2 separate regions of the Homo sapiens genome follow, and region 1 is linked to region 2. Evidence: fine-mapped expression QTL. A gene starts in region 2. The other region holds a variant in brackets. All regions are shown on one strand. Distances are from middle to middle.

Region 1 (10,999 bases), 43 kb before region 2:
TTTTTCACAATCATTCAGAGATAGTCACTGCTTAGCATACTTCCAGTCTTTTTTCCTGTGCATGTGTATCCTAGATCCTTGACCTTAAAGAACCCATGCTGACAGAGCCTTAGACCTCCAAATTGTAAAGACTACTAAAATATTAATTATTTTCCATTTAATTTGTCTAACACTTATTTTTTCTGGCTGAGAATAATCTTTAAGACCCCTTTATTTTCATCACCAGCAGTTTCCTATCATTGGGAGCCAATCTTCACAATGACAAAGCTTTTATCAGCTGAACAAAAGATATTGCCTACCCCAGGATAGTAAAGAACCAGTGACTCAGGAGGGTGTGGCTAGGCTCACTTCCTAACAAAGTTACACACTCCTGCCCTGTGCACCACTCTCACACCCAAACACTGGCCTTGACAAAATAACAAATTATGACATGCCAAAGACCTTCAAAATCACTTGGGAATGGTCAAAATAGATTTTGAATACAGAATTCCAAATGTTCACAGAATATGAATATGCTAATACATGCCATACATGTTTTCTGCTTACTTCGTATACAATTTTGTGTCCTGCTTTTTAAAAGAGTTCATATTCTAGTGTGAACTTTCTACCATACCAATAAATAAAGATATTCATTGCAGCCTTGTTTATACAAGAAAAATGATGGAAGCAACCAAAATGACAATCAAATGACAATCAATCAGGGAATGGTTGAATAAATTGTGACTTTCTTATTGACTTGTAAGCGCTCTTGATATTATACATAAATTATTATACATTATAGATATACAAAATCTGTCATATCTCTTATAAGTACTTCTTCTTGTTTTGTTATTTGCTGTTTAGTGTTGCTTAGAGTGAGGTATGATGAAAGAAATGTTAACTTTTTTCTTTTTTTTTTGAGCTAGGGTCTCGCTGTTATATCCAGGCTAGAGAGCAGTGGCCCAATCACAGCCACTTCAGCCTCAACCTCCCAGGCTCAAGCAAACCTCTCACCACTTCAACCTCTCGAGGAGCTGAGACTACAGGTATATCCCACCATGCCTGGCTAATTTTTTCTATTTTTTGTAGAGATGCTGACCCACTATGTTGCCCAGGCTGGTCTTAAGCTCACAACCTCAAGCGACCCTCCTTCCAAGGAAATTATAACTTTGTATGCAGTTAAAACTAGGCTCTTTTCCTTTGAGACTCCTCCCATTTCTTTTATGCCTAGAATGTTCGTCTCCAACCAGATCTTATAGAAGAACTTGTGTATATAGGTTTTTTGTTTTTTGAGACAAGGTCTCACTCTGTTGCCCAGGCTGGAATAAAGTGACTCAATCTCAGCTCACTGAGGCCTCAACCTCCCAAGCTAAAGCGATCCTCCTACCTCAGCCTCCCTAGTAGTTGGAACTACAGGCGTGCTAATTTTTGTATTTTTTGTAGGGACGTTGTTTTGCCATGTTGCCCAGACTGGTTTTGAACTCCTGCTGGGATTACAGGTGTGAGCCACTGAGCCCAGCCTATATGGTCATTTATAGATATTTTTTCACATTTACTTCATTAACCCCAGATGAATTTGCTATGCTATAAAGTATGAGGAGAGGCTGTAACTTGGTTTCTTCCAGCATCAATCACTAAACAATCCTTCCTTCCTCTGCTGATTTGGCATATATTGCAAAGCAACATCACAGATATCTAAGGCCTGTTTCTGAAGTCCATGTGTCATATTAATACGGTATTTAGAGATTCTTTAATCAGTATTGCACTGTTTTGTAAAGTTTCATACTTTAATGTTGCAAAGTTAAAGCTCATGTTTATTATCCTTCTTTATAAATAATACTTTGCCATTCCAGCCTATGTATTATTTTGGCAGGTTTCAAAAAAACTCACTGTATTTTGGTTGTAAATCAATCACAAATGTGAGTTAATTCAGGAAAATTAGCATATATCGTATATATCCACATACATGTAGACGTATTTGTATATATCCAATATTCATTTGTCGAATTATGATCACAAAATCAACTTATAACATCACATAAGGGAACAAAATATCTACAAATGAAGAGTTAAAATAATTCTAATCAGGCGGCAAAACGATTAGCAGTGTAACAGGCTGGCGCTGCAAAAGACCATCTCCCAACACGTACTAAGATGTTAAAGGAGATTTCCCTAAAAGAAATCTCCAAGGCCCTCAGGATATTTGTGATGCGCTGGGTTGTGGAAATAAATCCCAGCTGAAGGCTTACAGATTCCCCCACTGATAGAACCGGAACAGTCTCACTATAAGAAGGGAATCAGCAAGTTAACCAATGGGATGCAGGAAGGTCATCCTTGAATTGGCAACCAGGTCCTACTCCCCCTGTCCAGGCAGTAAACACATAACCTTATCTCAGTCCAAGTCTGAGAGACTGCAGCTTCAATCCTAGATGGCAAAACTGCTCCTTTCAGTTGCTTAAGTGACTCTCCAGGCCCAAGAAGGTAAAAAATAGGACTACAGGATAAAGTGAGTCAAATCTGTACTCTATTACCACTTAGATTTGGGGTTGTTTTATAATCATTATAATGTTCTGCTGTTACTAAGCCATTTGAAACATTTAAGAGAATCCAATATATTTAACAATGGTACGTTAGACTTACAATCATAATTCAAAATGCTTAAGAAAATATAATTAAGTTCAAACATGTTTGAATGCTTAAAAAAAACTTACATTTATCTATTAGACTTACGAGAGTTGCCTAAGTCCTTGGAAAGATTTTAGCTTTTTTTGTGGTTTTTTTTTTTTTTTTTGTGAGACAGTTGCCTCACTCCTGTTGCCCAGGCTGGAGTGCAGTGGCACCATGAGAGCTCACTGCAGCCTCAACTTCCCGGACCCAGCACTTTGGGAGGCTAAGGCAGGATGATCGCTGGAGCCTAGGAGTTTAAGACCAGCCTGGACAACATGATGAGACTTCATCTGCACAAAAAAATTTTTTTTAAATTAGCCAGGTATGGTGGCACACCCCTGTAGTCTTGGCTACTAAGGAGGCTGAGGTGGGAGGATGGCTTTAGACTGGGAAGGTCCAGGCTGCAGTGAGCCGTGATCCTGCCACTGCACTCCAGCCTGGGCGACAAGAGTGAAACTCCGTCTCAAACAAAAAAAAGAAAAAAACAAAGATCCCCCTTTAAAAACCTCAGTTGGTGTTACTGAGAAAATACTAGCCTTCCTTGTCCCTTGGTTATCCTCAGCAATTTTTAATTTTTTCTTACTATATATATATATATCTCCTTCTAAACATTGTATTTTCAAACTGGTTATTGATGAAACAGAAAAACTAAATTGTGCATTCCAACTTATAATGAGTACCCTTCCTGAATTCTTATTTTAATGGGTTTTTTGGTTTTTGTTTTTGTTTTCAAAATAGGCAGACCTATCATCCACGGAAATGAGAATTCTGTCTTCCCTTTTCCAAAAATTGCATTTCTTATTTTTGTTTCCTGTCTTACTGCACTGGCTAGAACTTTCAGGTTTTAGGCAATATATTCTTATTATCTAATAGTGGTAGAAATGTACCATGTTTCTGATGTTAAGGGGAATGCCTCTAGGTTTTGGTGCAATGTTCATTTGAGATTTTTTTTTCTTTTTTCTTTTTGGCGGGGGGACGAGTCTCGCTCGCTCTGTCGCCTAGCTGGAGTGCAGTGACATAATCTCGGCTCACGGCAACCTCCGCTTCCCGGGTTAAGCGATTCTCCTGCCTCAGCCTCCCAAGTAGCTGGGACTACAGGCATGCGCCACCACGCCCGGCTAATTTTGTATTTTTAGTAGAGTACTGGGTTTGACCGTGTTGGCCAGGCTGGTCTCGAACTCCTGATCTCAGGTGGTCCACCCGCCTCGGCATCCCAAAATGCTGGGATTACAGGCTTATACCACCCTGCCCGGCCAAGATTCATGTTTTTATTTAAGTTATTAAAATCTCATTCAATTCCTCACAAATTCAGAATTTTTAAACAGGAACTTATGTTAAATTTTTATCAAATTATTCCCTGGAATCTTAAATACGCTTTAAAGATCACTTTGTCTTAAAAATACACACGCAGTAAATGACAGTCCGTGCAGCTAATTCTTGGTACTTCAGGGAAACTGATCTCCCAAGAAAAATCAGGCTGCGGGACGACCCAGTACGCTAAACACCGACTTGCAACCGAAATCTCTAACCACCACAATGCCTTGGGGAAATGCGTGTCGACTCGCCACCTTTGCCAGCTGGCAGTGACTCAACAAGAGCCCGACACCAAGTCTAAGTCAATCCTTAACACTGTGGAGTCTGTGATCGGGACTGGGATCTTTTGCAAAATTGTGATTCTACCTGGTCTGCTGAAGTTTGGGCCGACGCTGCGCTCAACTGCAGTTAACACTTCCCAGTTCATGGTTCAGTTTTAAAGTGTCCAAACTACGCCCGGCATCTGTCTTCCTGTTGTCACAACTTTTTCAAAAGTGCAAAACTAGGGCAAGGCTAACGAGAGAGCCCGGACCCGACAACGACACGCACCTTTGTCCCCAGCGCCGACGCGGGCCGCAGACGTCCCCCCGCGGCGGTCCTCATGCCGGTCCCCGGGCGGCGGCGCAGCTAGCGGTCGGCTGCTAAGCCGTGGCTCCCAGCGGGCGGGCGGCCCGCGCCTCGGCCCATGGCCGGGTCCCCGAGCCCAGGGGAGCCTGGTGTGCCGCGCCGCGCGCCGGCCCAGGAGGAAGCGAAGAAATGCCAACTCGACGTCCGCGCAGCCACTCCGGGGACACCAGGGGGTCGGGGGAGCAGCCTCCGGTCGCCCCAGGAGAACTTGCGGCGCGGGACCCCGCGCTCAGACGGCGCCTCCGAAAGCGGCCGTCGGGAGGAGCGCTCCAAAGAACACGGGCGGCGGGAGCGGACGGGCGCGGACACCGGGGCCTCCCGGCCTGCGGCCAAGCAGAGTTGCCGGGCGCGGGAGCCCAGACCCGGCGGAGGCTGAGTTCCAGGCCGCGCCGAGCTCCGTCAGGGTAGCTCACTGGCGCTGCGACGGGGCCGACCAGCGCCTCGGGCTCGGGAATGGCCCCGGGGCCCGCGCCGGACCAACGGGCGTAACGGAAGCGCCGAGAGGGGAGGGGCGCGGAGTCCAAGACCCGGGGGCGGGGCGAGCCGCGAGGCCGGCTCCCTCTCGCGCTCAGCCGGTCGCACCGTCGCCGCCGCCGCCGCCTCAGACCGCGGGCGCTTCGTTGTCACGAGCCGAAGGGAGGGGGAAGGAGCCGGGAGTCTCTGCGCTCCGGCGCGCGGAGACCGCGGCGCTCGCGTCACGTGCCCCTCGGTCGACCAATGATCCCCGGCGGGCGCGGTGACGTCAGAGTAGCGGCGTGGCCAGTGACAGCCGGCCCCCGTCACGTGGTCGGGCCCACTCCA[A/C]TGGGCGGCGCCGGGGCGACTTGCTGTTCCCGGCGGCCCGTGCGTCGGCGGTGGTTGGGTGGTAAGATGGCGGCTGTGAGTCTGCGGCTCGGCGACTTGGTGTGGTGAGTCCGAGCGGCCGGGCCAACCGAGACGCGCCGGGGAGCTACCCGCCTGGGCGCGGGGTTCGCTGCCGGCCCTGGAGCTGCCTTTTTATGCGCTCCAGGTCGCGGAGAGAGGGGAAGAGAAGGTGCCGGCGCTTGCGAGCGGCGCCAGGCGGAAGGGGCAGTCCAGTCCCGGGGGACCGAGGCCGAGGGTGGCCACGTCGGGCACCGGCTTTGATCCCCGAGGCCGGCCGGGTGGGGTCTGCACTCGGGGCCCAGATACTGGCGGCCCCCGTGAAGGGAGCCGCCGGTGCCGCGAGGCTTCCCCGGACGACCGGTCCCCGGGGTCTTGTTGGGGCTTCCCAGAAAGCAGAAGCGCCGGGGACCGGACCTGCGAGATCTGGCCGGTGCCATTCGGTCAAAGCCCAGGTTGCGATGCAGCCGACCTGTGCGGCCGGCTCAGCCGGGGTTGTCTAAACCGGACTGCTGGCGTTGCCCCGCGAAGAAACGGCGGGGGGACTTCTCCTTTACAACCGATGGCTTGGCAGTGACCAGTGCACGCTTGGGTGCCTCCCGCGGTCTGCTTCTGTGTCCCAGACAACCGCCCGAACCAAGACTTTGTCGCCGCCTCCCTCGAGCTGCGTAGCTTGTTTCTCCACCCAGAGGAAGGCTTCCATTAGCATTTGTCAAAGCCAGGCAGGTCTCCTGTTGAATTAAACCAGACTTAGGGAGGGAAAGTCTGTGTTTACAGAGGAAGCTGTCCTCCCACCCCCGTCATTAAGAAGCTCTAGACAAGTGACTTTTGACAGTTGTGTTGTTCTGTATTCCTTGTCAACAGAAGAATGGATATGCGTTGTGCACATAAGTATACAATTTTGCATTTTACTTCTGAGGGTGTTGGGCCCAGCTATGAAAGCTTTTGTTTCGGCATTTGAGGATGCCAGCAGAGATTTAGGAAAATAAATTGCGTATTGAGTGGGTTGAAGGAGATGGACTGGCTTTTGCAGGGCAAGTGTTGACTCTTTGTGTTTTCTCTAGGGGGAAACTCGGCCGATATCCTCCTTGGCCAGGAAAGGTGAGTGTCTTGCTACTAAAGGAAGAGATCTGAAGTTGGGTTTGAAGAGGTGGAGAATGTAAGATGCATTCCTCTCAGTTTCTAGTATTGAGTTAAATTGGGCTCATTCAGATGGCACTTAGAATTTTTTTTCCCCTAGTATCGGTTATTTTTTAAAAGGCAATGCAGTATACACCAGATCATTAAATCTTCTCTAAACCCTTATTTCTGGATTTAGAGGAGGTTTATGAAGTTTCTTTTTTAACCCCGGAAATAATTCTAGTCTGAATTTAGCTTTATGCTTAAATGTAACAAAAGGAGAAGAAAATATAAATTATCCAGGAAGAAAGTCTAAATGTAGGTTAGTGAAAAGCCAAAGTATTTTTGTCCCAACTAAGTTTAAATCTTCTTTCCATGTTACCATATGTGCTACTCCAGTGCCTCTTTGCAGAAGTTGGCATTCCAGATTTTGCATGAGGTGATCCATCATTGCTTTCCAAATGTTGTGTTTTTATATTCTTGCTTGGAGCCCGGGAGGTGTCTTTAGATGGTCTCTTTGCAATATGGTGTTTTCTGTGCCTCGGTTGTCCTTTGTTTTCACTATGTCCTGTGTCAACCCTTCCTGCACAGGAAGTATTTCAAAGAGTGTCGTCTGCATTTTTTCAGTAATAATGGGGTCACATTGGAGCAGGGGTGGGGTGGTGGGGGGCAGGGGATGCTGTTGATCTTAGTTTTAACTGCTTGTAAAACAGGGCCACTGCAGTAAAAGGGATATTGTGTCTACTGAGCACTGTGCTACATGTTAAATATTGGGAACTTCTAGAATATCTACACATTTCCATACACCTCAATAGAAAAATGGGAGATTTAGACAAGTACTAGGCCTTGGGTTCTGTTTTGTATATAAATAAATTTATTTGTAAGTAAGTCCTTTTAATTTACTTTTTTCTTAGCAACGTAGAACTGTAGAGCAATGTGGAGCCACTAGAAAGTGGGCTGCTGTGTTGCCAGCCAACCTTTTTCCCCCCTTTTATCCTCCAGATTGTTAATCCACCAAAGGACTTGAAGAAACCTCGCGGAAAGAAATGCTTCTTTGTGAAATTTTTTGGAACAGAAGATCAGTGAGTAGTACTCACCAGGAGTCTCCCTTCGCCTTTCTTTCTGTGTTACCTGGAGTCTGAGCTGCTTTGAAAATATTCTAAGGATCCTTAGTTCAGTCTTCTTATAATGTGTAATACTGGCATCTCATTCTGCCTTCATACCTAAATAAAGGTGCAATTTCTTGCAGAAATTGCCCTAGACAACTGTCCTAGGTCTATAACTAAGTCAGGCAAGAACTAGGTTCATTTACCTTCTAACTATAACAATCACATTGAAACAGTTTCTCACATGTTTCTTTACCCAACTCCAAAGGCAGTTCCTTTTTGTTTGTTTTTGAGACAGAGACTTAGTCTGTCACCCAGCCTGGAGTGCAGAGGCAGTCTCAGTTCACCGCAACCTCTGCCTCACTGACTCAAGCGGTTCTCTCACCTCAGCCTCCCGAGTAGCTGGGACCACAGGTGTGCACCACCATGCCCAGCTAATTTTTTGTAGAGGGGGTTTTACCATGTTGCCCAGGATGTTCTTGAACTCCTGGACTCAAGCAATCCACCTGCCTTGGCCTCCCAAAGTGCTGGATTATAGGCGTGAGCCACTGCGCCCAGCTGGCAATTATTTTTATAAAAGCCATGTTCAGTTCTCTTTTAATGCCATATATCATTATGGTTCATGCTTGGGGTATACAGTGGAAACTTTTATTTATGTTAATAAAAGTAATTGTTCAATCATGTTCTCATGTGTAAAACTAAGTGATTTGCTTTGACATTGTTATAGTAAGTCTTTTTACCAGATCTGTCCTAAGTTGGGGAAACCAGGACCATTAATCTGAGACTCTGACCATATAACATGTTACAGTGACGGGAAGAACGTGAAGAACCTGTATTAACTTGAGTTGCTAGTGATTTGTTTAGCTTTTTATCACTATGTCAAGTGGCTTACCTGGGTCTAGCTAGATGGTTTGATTTTTTTTTTTTTTTTTTTTTGAGATGGAGTTTCACTCTGTCACCCAGGCTGGAGTGCAGTGGCATGATCTCAGCTCACTGCAACCTCCACCTCTCGGGTACAAGTGATTCTGGTGCCTGAGCCTCCCGAGTAGCTGGGACTACAGGCGCACACCACCACACCCGGCTAATTGTTTTATATTTTTTAGTAGAGACGGGGTTTCACCATGTTGGCCAGGCTGGTCTCAAACTCCTGACCTCAAGTCATCTGCCCCTCCCCCCCCCAACCCCCTCAGCCTCCCAAAGTGCTGGGATTACAGGCAAGAGCCACCATGCCCAGCCGGTTTGATTTCTTTAAGTAGTTGTATTTCTATTTATTATTCTTATAGGAAAATACAGCCTTAGATTTGAAAAAAATGTCTGTGGCTTCTCTGGTAAATCTAATTCTGACGGTTAAAGTATTTCTACTTAGAAAGCGATATATTATAAACAGTATTCTTCACTCATCCAGGAGTTTATATGTCAGATGCTCTTCCTGGTTTCATGTTTACAGATAGACCCAGCCCCATTTCTCTATCACAAGCCAGCTTAGCAGCCTGTGGTGGCAGTATTTCAAGGAGATCGCTGGCCTGGAGCTGTGGAGCCAGAGCTTCTGGAAGAGGGAATGTTCTTAGAACTCCATGGATTTAAAAAGAAGATTTGGCCGGGCATGGTGCCTCAGGCCTGCAATCCCAGTACTTTGGGAGGCCAAGGTGGGTGGATCACTGGAGGTCATGAGTTCGAGACCATCCTGGCCAACATGGCAAAACCCCGTCTCTACAAAAAATACAAAAATTAGCCAGGAGTGTTGGCGTCTACCTGTAATCCCAGCTACTTGGGAGGCTGAGGCTCGAGAATTGCCTGAACCCAGGAGGCAGAGATTGTTCGAGACCCTGCACTCCAGCATGGGTGACAGACTGAGACTATGTCTCAGAAAAGAAAAAGAAAAACAGGAAAGATTGTCCTCATGCATAACATCAGTGTTATGTGTCCACTTTCTGAATTGCTTGACACTGAGGGAATTTATAAGAAAGCAAGTATTATAGTTCCCACCTTCCAGATGCTCAGTCAAGTGACAAGTTGTAAACATTTCAGATAAGATGATGTGCACAATGATGGTCGGGCATGGTGGCTCATGCCTGTAACCCCAGCACTTTGGGAGGCCGGGGCAGGCAGATTGCTTAACGCCAGGAATTTGAGAACAGCCTGGCCAACATGGTGAAACCCTGTCTCTACTAAAAATACAAAAATTAGTCGGGTGTGGTGGTGCACACCTATAATCCCAGCTACTCAGGAAGCTGAGGCAGTAGAATTGGTTGAACCTGGGATGCGGAGGTTGCAGTGAGCTGAGATCGCGCCACTGCACTCCAGTCTGGGTGACAGAGCGAGACTCTGTCTCAAAAAATAAATAAAGATTATGTGCAGAATGAATGATGGCAGATAATTGTTAATTCTAGGCTGGGCACAGTGGCTCATGCCTGTAATCCCAGCACTTTGGGAGGCCAAGACAGGAGGATTGCTTGAGCCCAGGAGCCGGAGACCAGCCTGGACAACATAGCAAGACCTTGTCTCTACTTAAAAAAATAAATTTTTTTTTTCAATAGCCAGGCATGGTGGCACACAAGTGTAGTCCCAGGTATGCAGAAGGCTAAGGCAGGAGGATTGCTTGAGCCCAGGAGGTCAAAACTGCAGTGAGCCATGATCACAATATTGCACTCCAGTCTGGGTGACAGAGCTAGACCCTGTCTTAAAAAGAAAAAGAATTCTAGAAGAGGGAGAGCTCAGTGGAGAGCCATGAGAACCAAGAAGACTGACTGAAGAGATGGGATTTGTTTTTCTGTTTGTTTTTTTTTGTTGTTGTTTTTTTTTTTTTGAAACGGAGTCTCGCTCTGTCGCCCAGGCTGGAGTGCAGTGGCGCGATCTTGGCTCACTACAAGCTCCACCTCCCGGGTTCATGCCATTCTCCTGCCTCAGCCTCCCGAGTAGCTGGGACTACAGGCGCACACCACCATGCCCAGCTAATTTTTGTTGTATTTTTCAGTAGAGGCAGGGTTTCACCATGTTAGCCAAGATGGTCTTGATCTCCTGACCTCGTGATCTGCCCGCCTCGGCCTCCCAAAGTGCTGGGATTACAGGCGTGAGCCATCGCACTCAGCCAGAGATGGGATTTGAATCCAGCTCTGGAAGATACATAGAATCTGGATGGATGGGGACTATAGGGGCATTTCAGACAGTGGGGATACCATGAACAATTGGCATTAAGCTGGGTGTTATGGAAAGGAAGAGGCTCCCTGCCTGAGGTAACTTGTGCTTAGGAATAACAGAGGCAATATGGTTGGCCCAAACTTCATTAGCTAAATGAATAATTACACAAGTCTGAAACAAAAATGGGAACT
Region 2 (10,789 bases):
TCCATTCTCCTGCCTCACCCTCCTGAGTAGCTGGGACTGCAGGCGCCTGCCACCATGCCTGGCTAATTTTTTGTATTTTTAGTAAAGACGGGGTTCCACTGTGTTAGCCAGGATGGTCTCATTCTCCTGACCAAGATGTTGAAACCCCTATCTCTACTAAAAATACAAAAAATTAGCTGGGCATGGTGGCAGGCACCTTTAATCTCAGCTACTCAGGAGGCTGAGGCAGAGAATTGCTTGAACCTGGGAGGCGGGAGGTTGCAGTGAGCCTAGATCGCACCACTGCACTCCAGCCTGGGCAACAGAGTGAGACTCCATCGCAAAAAAAAAAAAAAAAAAACGAAAGCTGCTACAGCCTTCTCAGGCTTATTGTTTTCATGGTATGTATATTTTTCCATCCATTTCCTCTCTTATTTATGTCTAAATTATGGCTTTGATAGACAGTATGTAATTGGGGTTTGGATTTTTATCCATTTTGACAGTATCTGCCTTTTAATTAGCATGTCTATTAGCATTTTTCAAATGATGTTTTAAGCACTTAACACGTGCACTTTTTTTATATTTGAGACACAGTCTCACTCTCTTGCCCAGGTAAAGTGCAGTGGCACAATTATAGCTCACTGCAGCCTTGACTTCCTAGGCTCAAGCAATCCTCCCACCTCAGCCTCCCGAGTAGCTGGGACTATAGGCGTGCACAACTGTATCCAACTTCACATACACTTTCGAAAAGCTTTTTAGGGTAGAAGTTCCGCTTTCTTAGCTCATCTTCATAGAATTTGAATCTAAAAAAAAAACAACTGAAAAACATTTGTCTTTACCATATTATTATAATAAAAATGACACTTTGTGAAACAGCAGCTGTATTTTTAAAGTACTATCAGCTGATACACTTTTATTTTATGTTATTTTATTTTATTTTATTTTATTTTAGAGACCGAGTTTCACCCTTGTTGCCCAAGCTGGAGTGCAATGGTGTAATCTCGGCTCACTGCAACCTCTGCCTCCTGGGTTCAAGTGATTCTCCTGCCTCAGCCTCCACAGTAGCTGGGATTACAGGTGCCTGCCAGTACTCCTGGCTAACTTTTTGTATTTTTAGTAGAGATACGGTTTCACCATGTTGGCCAGGTTGGTCTCAAACTCCTGACCTCAGGTGATCCACCCACCTCAGCCTACCTAAGTGCTGGGATTACAGGCGTGAGCCATGGCACCCAGCCAGTACTGTTCTTTTGACACCTGGCTTTTCATAGTATAATTCTCTGTTCCTGAATTGTATTTTTTTTTTTTTTTTTTTTTGAGACAGAGTCTCACTCTGTTGCCCAGGCTGGAGTGCAGTGACATGATCTCAGTTCACTGCAGCCCCCACCTCTTGGGTTAAAGTGATTCTCCTGCCTCAGCCTCCCAAGTAGCTGGAACCGCAGGCATGCACCGCCACACTTGGCTAATTTTTGTATTTGTAGTAGAGACAGGGTTTTACCATTTTGACCAGGCTGGACTCGAACTCCTGGCCTCAAGTAATCCGCCTGCCTTGGCCTCCCAAAGTGCTGGGATTACAGGCATGAGCCACCGCATGCAGCCTTGTTCCTAAATTCTGTCTTCTGTCTCTTGTCTGTTTCAACATTTCAGAGTACTTATTTCATGACTCTTTCAGATTACATTACTATTTCAAGTCCCCCCTGTTCATTCTACCAGTGGATTCTCTCTGGATAGTAGAATTCGTTGTGTATTTTATAAGTCTTTTTTGATGAAAGCTCATTTCTGACTATAGTTATTTCCCAAGGGTTTCATGTGGCTTGGGCTGGGAAAGCTTCTCTTTGAAGTGACTTCCAAGTTGCCTCCACCCTGACTACAGGATTCATTGGCTTGGAAGCAGAGTTTTTAGGTTAATTTCTCAATGCAGCTCGCTGCTTTCAGGTCGTTTGGATGGTATGAGCTTAGACTCTATACTGTTAGGAGTTCAGAGGTTAGGTTCTGAAGGTTAACTGGTGCATTGACCTTTAGTAGTTGTATTGATATGTGGTTCAATTTGGGGCTGCCATTTTATCATTTGATTTCTGTTCGTTGTCTTTGTCTTTTGTTTGTTCCTCCTTTCTTACTTTCTTTTTAGAATTCCAGTTTCAGCTGGGCACGGTGGCTGACACCTATAATCTCAACACTTTGGGAGGCTGAGGCGGGCAGATCACCTGAGGTCAGGAGTTCGAGATCAGCCTGGCCAATATAGTGAAGCCCAGTCTCTACTAAAAATACCAAAAATTAGCCGGGCATAGTGGCGGGCACTATTAATGCCAGCTACTCCGGAGGCTGGGACAGGAGAATCACTTGAACCCAGGAGGCGGAGGTTGCAGTGAGCCGAGATCGTGCCATTGCACTCCAGCCTGGGCGACAGACCAAGACTCCGTCTCAAAAAAAAAAAAAAAAAAAAAAGGGGCCAGGCGCAGTGGCTCACGCCTGTAATCCCAGCACTTTGGGAGGCCGAGGCGGGTGGATCACGAGGTCAGGAGATCAAGACCATCCTGGCTAACAGGGTGAAACCCTGTCTCTACTAAAAATACAAAAAATTAGCCAGGCGTGGTGGCGGGCGCCTGTAGTCCCAGCTACTCGGGAGGCTGAAGCAGGAGAATGGCGTGAACCCGGGAGGCAGAGCAGAGCTGGCAGTGAGCCGAGATCACACCACTGCACTCCAGTCTGGGCGACAGAGCAAGACTCCATCTCAAAAAAAAAAAAAAGAAAAAAGAATTCCAGTTTCATTTATCTATTTTCTTTTTTACTTTGCCTCTGCATTCTTTTTTTAGTGGTTACTCTACAGATTGCGGTATAAATCCTTAAGATAGAGTTAATCTTGCCAGGCACAGTGGCTTATACTTGTGATCCTTGTAATCCTAGCACTTTGGGAGGTCGAGGCAGGGTCGAGGCAGGGTCGAGGCTTAAGCAAGCCCAGGAGTTTGAGACCAGCCTGGGCAACATAGCAAGACCCCCATCTGTACAAAAAAAAATAAAAAACTAGCTGGGCGTGGTGGCGAGCACCCTATTCCTAGCTACTTGGGAGGCTGAGGCAGGTGAGGCAGGAGGATTGCTTGAGCCCAGGAGTTCGAGGCTGCAATGAGCCATGATCCTACCACTGCACTCCAGCCTGGGCAACAGAGCAAGACCCTGTCTCAAGAAAAAAAAAAAAGACAGTTAATCTTGTACCATTTCCCATTAAATGTAAAAACTTTGCAACCACACAGAAGCATTTCTTTCCCCCTTCCTCTCCCTCATCCTTTAAGGCAGGGTTTCTCAACCTCGGCACTGCTGCCATTCTGTGTGGGGGGGCTATCCAAGCACTGCAGGATGTTGGGTAGCCCACCCACCAGACGCCAGTGACATAGCTCCTCCTCAGGTGACAGAAAATGTCTCCAGATATTACCAGATGTCCCCTGGGGGCAGAAGCACCACAGGTGTGAGAACTCTCACTCTGAGGTATAGGTGTCCTGGGTGTTTCATCTGCCCTTGTTTTATTTTTTATTCATTTATTTATTTATTTGAGACAGTTTTGCTCTTTTTTTGTTTTTGAGACAGAGTCTCGCTCTGTCACCCAGACTGGAGTGCAGTGGTGTGATCTCAGCTCACTGCAACCTCCGCCTCCCAGGTTCAAGCTATTCTCCTGCCTCAACCTCCTGAGTAGCTGGGATTACAGGCACCTGCCACCATGCCCGGCTAATTTTTTGTATTTTTTTTTTTTAAAGAAGGGGTTTCACGACGGTCACCAGGCTGGTCTTGATCTCCTGACCTCGTGATTCACCCACCTTGGCCTCCTAAAGTGCTGGGATTACAGGCATGAGCCACTGCGCCTGGCCCTAATTTTTGTATTTTTAGTAGAGATGAGGTTTCACCTTTTTGGCCTGGCTGGTCTCGAACTCCTGACTTCAGGTGATCCACCCACCTCGGCCTTACAGGCATGAGCCGCAGTGCCCGGCCAATGCTGAATGTTTTATATCCCATAGTGTATTTCATTCTCACAAGATCCCCCGGGTACTGTTCCTTCTCCCAGAGCAAGAAGCACAGTGGCTGAGGTCCAGAGAAACGGAGGTGCTTCATGCAAGGTCAACACAGGATTCCTAACCGGACAGCCTGGGCTCCAGCACTGCCTGCTGGCCACATCCACCACTGCCTCCAGGAATCAGGTCTAGGTCTTGAAGGCAGCTCTGGGGCCAGAGACTGAGCCATCTCTTTTTTTTCCAGGTGTACAAAAGAGCCAAGGCGCTGGACCAGTCTGACAACGATATGTCCGCCGTGTACCGAGCCTACATACACTAAGCTGTCGACACCCCGCCCTCACCCCTCCAATCCCCCCTCTGACCCCCTCTTCCTCACATGGGGTCGGGGGCCTGGGAGTTCATTCTGGACCAGCCCACCTATCTCCATTTCCTTTTATACAGACTTTGAGACTTGCCATCAGCACAGCACACAGCAGCACCCTTCCCCTGAGGCCGGTGGGGAGGGGACAAGTGTCAGCAGGATTGGCGTGTGGGAAAGCTCTTGAGCTGGGCACTGGCCCCCCGGACGAGGTGGCTGTGTGTTCACACACACACACACACACACACACACACACACACACAGGCTCTCGCCCCAGGATAGAAGCTGCCCAGAAACTGCTGCCTGGCTTTTTTTCTTCCGAGCTTGTCTTATCTCAAACCCCTTCCAGTCAAGGAACTAGAATCAGCAACGAGAGTTGGAAGCCTTCCCACAGCTTCCCCCAGAGCGAAGAGGCTGTAGTCATGTCCCCATCCCCCACTGGATTCCCTACAAGGAGAGGCCTTGGGCCCAGATGAGCCAGTACAGACTCCAGACAGAGGGGCCCTTGGGGCCCTCCAACCTCAGGTGATGAGCTGAGAAAGATGTTCACGTCTAAGCGTCCAGTGTGCACCCAGCGCTCCATAGACGCCTTTGTGAACTGAAAAGAGACTGGCAGAGTCCCGAGAAGATGGGGCCCTGGCTTTCCAGGGAGTGCAGCAAGCAGCCGGCCTGCAGGTGAGCATGGAGGCCCGGCCCTCACCGCCTCGAAGCCATGCCCCAGATGCCACTGCCACAGCGGGCGCTCGCTCCTCCCTAGGCTGTTTTAGTATTTGGATTTGCATTCCATCCCTTGGGAGGGAGTCCTCAGGGCCACTAGTGATGAGCCAAGAGGAGTGGGGGTTGGGGGCGCTCCTTTCTGTTTCCGTTAGGCCACAGACTCTTCACCTGGCTCTGAAGAGCCACTCTTACCTCGGTCCCCTCCCAGTGGTCCCACCTTCTCCACCCTGCCCTGCCAAGTCCCCTGCATGCCCACCGCTCTCCATCCTCCCTCCTCTCCCTCTTCCTCCCGTGGAGACAGTATTTCTTTCTGTCTGTCCCTTTGGCCCAGACCCAGCCTGACCAACGATGAGCATTTCTTAGGCTCAGCTCTTGATACGGAAACGAGTGTCTTCACTCCAGCCAGCATCATGGTCTTCGGTGCTTCCCGGGCCCGGGGTCTGTCGGGAGGGAAGAGAACTGGGCCTGACCTACCTGAACTGACTGGCCCTCCGAGGTGGGTCTGGGACATCCTAGAGGCCCTACATTTGTCCTTGGATAGGGGACCGGGGGGGGCTTGGAATGTTGCAAAAAAAAAAGTTACCCAAGGGATGTCAGTTTTTTATCCCTCTGCATGGGTTGGATTTTCCAAAATCATAATTTGCAGAAGGAAGGCCAGCATTTACGATGCAATATGTAATTATATATAGGGTGGCCACACTAGGGCGGGGTCCTTCCCCCCTCACAGCTTTGGCCCCTTTCAGAGATTAGAAACTGGGTTAGAGGATTGCAGAAGACGAGTGGGGGGAGGGCAGGGAAGATGCCTGTCGGGTTTTTAGCACAGTTCATTTCACTGGGATTTTGAAGCATTTCTGTCTGAACACAAAGCCTGTTCTAGTCCTGGCGGAACACACTGGGGGTGGGGGCGGGGGAAGATGCGGTAATGAAACCGGTTAGTCAATTTTGTCTTAATATTGTTGACAATTCTGTAAAGTTCCTTTTTATGAATATTTCTGTTTAAGCTATTTCACCTTTCTTTTGAAATCCTTCCCTTTTAAGGAGAAAATGTGACACTTGTGAAAAAGCTTGTAAGAAAGCCCCTCCCTTTTTTCTTTAAACCTTTAAATGACAAATCTAGGTAATTAAGGTTGTGAATTTTTATTTTTGCTTTGTTTTTAATGAACATTTGTCTTTCAGAATAGGATTGTGTGATAATGTTTAAATGGCAAAAACAAAACATGATTTTGTGCAATTAACAAAGCTACTGCAAGAAAAATAAAACACTTCTTGGTAACACAGCTGTGCCGCAGGAGTCCTGCTTCCCTCGTCCTCGGCGAGATGGGTGGGAGGAGAAGGCAGCGGCGGGGCCGGGGTGGGTTTTCGGGACCTCCGCGTCCGGGGTGAGACGGACTTGGGAGTGGCGGCGAGGTCCGCGGCAGGGTTGGAACCACGACCAATGGAGCCAAGCGGGCCAATAGGGAGGAGGAGCGGGGACAGACTGTCCTGCCGGCCAATGAGTGAGCGCGAGTGGAGCAGAGCGCCCTATCATATCCTGGGGGCGCCCCGGGAGCTCCGCCCCCAAGCGGGCGCCCCAGGCTGGTGCCGGCCGCGTCCCTGGCCAGCCGGAGCAAGCCTGACTCGTGCAGCCGCCGGCCGCGTCCCTGGCCAGGCGGAGCGAGCCTCACTCCCGCAGCCGCCAGTCTGGTTCCAGGGCTCCCGCAGGTTTCGGGGGCCGAGGCGGACCGACAGGCGCCAGCCAATCGCGAGCACGGAGCCGGCCTGGGGGCGGGGTGGTACCCGCTCCGCCAATCGGGTGGGGGCGGAGCCAGACGCCGGGGGCGGACGGGAGGACCGGAGGACCGAGGACAGAAAGATTGGTGGACAGGAGCAGCGGCCGGTGGGGAGGGCGCTCGGCGGCGGCCTGCGGCCATGGCCACCGTGATGGCAGCGACGGCGGCGGAGCGGGCGGTGCTGGTAAGGCGCGCGGGCCAGCGGGCGGGCCGGCGGGGCGGCGGGGCCGGGCGCGACCGCCGGGTCTGTCCCGCAGGAGGAGGAGTTCCGCTGGCTGCTGCACGACGAGGTGCACGCTGTGTTGAAGCAGCTGCAGGACATCCTCAAGGTAACGACCCGCGCCCTGCCCCGCCGGGCGTGGCGGCCCTCCCTCCTCATTTCCCTGGCTCCACCTGGGGCCGCGCGGCTGCGTCCTGAGCGCCTACAGTGTGCGGCTGCCGCGGCTTTCAGGCAGGGCCCCGCCTCCGCGAACTCGAGCCGACCTCATTATATAAGTACCTGTGTGCGGGCAGGGGCGGGTCCCGACGAGGGTGCTAGCAAGGGCCTGAGTCCCGCCCGGCCTCGGGTCGGGGAAGGCCGCCTTGGGAGCAGCGGCATCCAATCTGGGAGCCGAAGAATTCTGCCTCTGCCTGGCAGTGTGACTTCAGCCAAGTCACTGAACCTCCCTGGGCCTCCCTTTTCTCATTGGCAAAAGGGAGATAACAGTACCCGCTTCGCGAGGCTGGGGTGTAGATAAATGAGCCAGGCAGCTCACAGAAGTAACCGGCGTAGTGCTTGCTGTGGCCCAGGACCGCGGGTTACCATAACTACTGCCTTGTTCCCTGACTCTGCCCCTTGCCCCTTTCCCCCTCAACCAAGCTGGGAGGCTGCCCCTGTCTGTTTTGTATTCCCCGAGGCGGGCACACAGGAGGTGTTCAGGGAATGTGGTATAAGCAGAGATCGGGCTCACGGTTAGGTGCCCTGGGGGCTTGGGCAGGGTCTTCCCACCCCAGCTGAACCCAGGTGAGGCCAGGCCACGTTGTTCCTTCCCCCCGCTGACTTGGAGGGAGGGGGGCTTCTGGAAGGAGCACTGGGCCGGGCCTGAGTGGGCGCTACCAGCTCCCCTCCTTCCCTCTGTTCCACAGGAGGCCTCTCTGCGCTTCACTCTGCCGGGCTCCGGCACTGAGGGGCCCGCCAAGCAAGAGAACTTCATCCTAGGCAGCTGTGGGTGAGCCTGGGCTAGGCGGAAACCGGGGAAATGGGTACCTTGGGGGGTAGGAGGCATGGCCATAGCCCTGTCCTGCAGACCAGCTGGTTGTGCGATGGGACAGGAGGGGCAGCCCGCCGGGAGGGAGGGCTGGGTGGTGGGGGGGTGACCACAGGCACCGCTCTGACGCCACATGTTACAGCACAGACCAGGTGAAGGGTGTGCTGACTCTGCAGGGGGATGCCCTCAGCCAGGCGGTGAGTCCCCCGGCCCTGTCCCCTCCCATCCTGCCAATGGGGAAGAGCATGGGAGCTCCCACTTTCTCTCTGTACAAGCCCTGCGACTCTGGGCGGGACCCTTGATCTCTCTGGCCTCAGTTTTCTCCTTTGGAAAATGACAGCAACCCTCACACCTTCTCCCGGGATCGGTGTGCAGATTCAGTAAGAGGTGCAGGAGAGGGGTTCTTTGCACACGGCCTGGCCTGGCGTCCGGACCAGTGAAACATGGGCATTGGTGGATTAGGCTGGCCACACATCACAGTTGAATCAGCCAATGCCTGAACTCCAGTCTGCACCCGACTCTGTGCCAGGCACCAAGGCGTGGGGGGAGGCCCCCCTCCTGGGCTCCATCTGTTGCCCTTTGTAGACACTAGATGCACCCCGTTCGCACAGAGCCTCACAGAGGCTGCCTTTCCTCTTCCCCTTCCCCTTTCTTCACCTCTTTCCATTTCACTTCTTTGTGGCTCTTCTTGGGCCTGGTTTCCTGTTTCCTGACCTCCCTGTTCAACCCCCAAACGGCCAAGGCATTGGGAGACCCTCTGCCCTATACAGCGGCCAAGGCCTGAACCACCACACACCCCATTTCTGCCCTGGGCTTAAGGGCTCAGAGTGGCTGTGGCAGGAGGTGCCCCCCCACTGCCCAGCTCACCCCACTCTTGCCTGTCAGGATGTGAACCTGAAGATGCCCCGGAACAACCAGCTGCTGCACTTCGCCTTCCGGGAGGACAAGCAGTGGAAGCTGCAGCAGGTGACCCCGCCCCTCCTGGCTAGTGCTCAGCCACAAGGACAGGCGGCAGCAGGCCTGCCGCGGGGCCTCCCTGGAGAGGGACTAGCCCTGGGGATCTGTGGCCACAGCAAGCCTGGGAGGGTGTTTCCTAACAGCAAAGCTGGGGGCAGGCGTTTCCTGAAGCCCTGGAGGCTGCGCCATGTGGGGAGGTAGAGAACCTGGCCTGAGAGCCCCGAGGGCCACATCGGGACTGTGGAGTCCCCACAGCAGCTGGCTGGATGAGATGGTTCAGAAGCCCTCTGAAAAGTCACTCCCTTGCCCAGAGCCTCCAGGGACTTGCCATGGCTCTGGGGATGAGGCCCATGCTCCCTGGCAGCTCCTGTACCAATGGGCCCCAGCCTCCTCCCCTGCCCCCTCCACCCCGACTGTCTCCATCTCAGCACCCTTGCCCCTGCCTTGTCGCCCTGTTTGCTTCCCTCCGCAACTCGCACAGACTCTTGTCTTGGGCATTACTGTGTGTCCATCCCTTAGAAAGGAGGGGGCAGTCAGCTTGGGCAGAGACCAGGCCTGCCCCAGGTGATGCCAGATGCCCATCACCTGGCGTGGACCTGGCCCTCTGGGGCACAGGGATGACAGTGTGGAGAGTGGAATGACGTGGGGCAGGCAGGCAGCACCCACTCTCCCCTCCTGGCCGCATGGAAGCTGGCGTGACCCCTCTGGATGACCCCTGCTTCCAGATCCAGGATGCCAGAAACCATGTGAGCCAAGCCATTTACCTGCTTACCAGCCGGGACCAGAGCTACCAGTTCAAGACGGGCGCTGAGGTCCTCAAGGTGAGCTGCCCCCGGGCCTGACTCCTGGGCCTAGTCCCACGTTCTTGATCCGGAATCACACCTGGGTTCCAATCCCAGGGCCTCCACGTTGAGCTGTGCAACCTGTAAGCACTTACCTGCCGACTCTGTGTCTCCATTTCTACCTGTGGGGTCAGGGGCAAGCTGGAGTGACTGTTCACCATAATAATTCAGGTCACGGGGCCCCCAGTAAGCACTCGGCACACACCACTGCCGGTAGCAGCAGTGAAAGCCTTCACATTAACCGCGTGGCACATGTGAAGAGCTGACCTGGGCACCTGACCTCATGCTTGAGTTCTGCCCCTGACTTGCTGTGTGTCCTCCGGTGGTTCACCTGCCCTCTCTGGACCTCTGTTTCCTCACACTTAGAACCAGATAGACTAAGATCCCTTCGAGAACTGTAACCACCCTAGGGTGCTACAGGCCCTATACCCCCAGTCAGCTCTTACGTGTTTCCTGGGAGCCACATCACCCTGGTACTCATGGCCACGGCTGAATGGCACGAAAGCTGGGGCTCTGAGGAGTCTGCCAGGGCTCTGCTCCACGGCAAAGGGAAGGAATGGGCTCCAGGTGGTCCCACCATCCATCAGCCGTGACCCTGGCTTACCCCCCTGAAAACCTCAACCCAGTCATCCATCGCCTCTTCCAGGAAGCCCTCTCTGGCCCTTTACAACCAACCTTTGTTGCCTGTACCCCTGTCCACAAAGCCTGTGCCCCTGGGACTGACCTCCCAGGACCTTCCATTCCCCATTGATCCAGCACCCAGGATCCCCGTGCAGTGAATCAGCCCCATCCCGACTGACATTAGTGCAGACATCCTGCCCTCCTCCATACCCAGCTGGAGCCCAACTACCTGTCTTTAACAGGTCCCTGCTGCCGGGTTTCGGGACCTGGGAACAGTAGCCACTGGGCTGGGTGGGAGTGGGAG

Evidence for each region. PIP is the estimated chance that this variant, and not a neighbour inherited with it, causes the effect.
Region 1: its variant is fine-mapped to the expression of ROGDI in whole blood (INTERVAL, PIP above 0.99).

Annotation. Positions count from the first base shown.
Region 1 is chr16:4,841,721-4,852,719 of GRCh38, reverse strand. It overlaps GLYR1 (glyoxylate reductase 1 homolog), which reads left to right and starts at 5,432. Exons shown (of 16, transcript NM_032569.4): 1 at 5,432-5,492; 2 at 6,510-6,546; 3 at 7,567-7,646. The coding sequence starts at 5,455. UBN1 (ubinuclein 1) reads right to left here and starts at 5,239. Exons shown (of 18, transcript NM_001079514.3): 1 at 4,510-5,239. RefSeq lists enhancers at 1-850, 4,431-5,273, 5,569-5,628, 5,929-5,988 and silencers at 4,559-4,648, 4,659-5,378. The variant A/C (reference allele first, on the strand shown) is at 5,389.
Region 2 is chr16:4,798,740-4,809,528 of GRCh38, reverse strand. It overlaps ROGDI (rogdi atypical leucine zipper), which reads left to right and starts at 6,896. Exons shown (of 11, transcript NM_024589.3): 1 at 6,896-7,002; 2 at 7,076-7,147; 3 at 7,944-8,026; 4 at 8,208-8,262; 5 at 8,951-9,031; 6 at 9,748-9,843. The coding sequence starts at 6,958. GLYR1 (glyoxylate reductase 1 homolog) reads left to right here. Exons shown (of 16, transcript NM_032569.4): 16 at 4,219-6,326. The coding sequence ends at 4,293. RefSeq lists enhancers at 4,547-4,841, 6,888-7,388 and silencers at 6,389-6,600, 6,493-7,282, 7,323-7,382.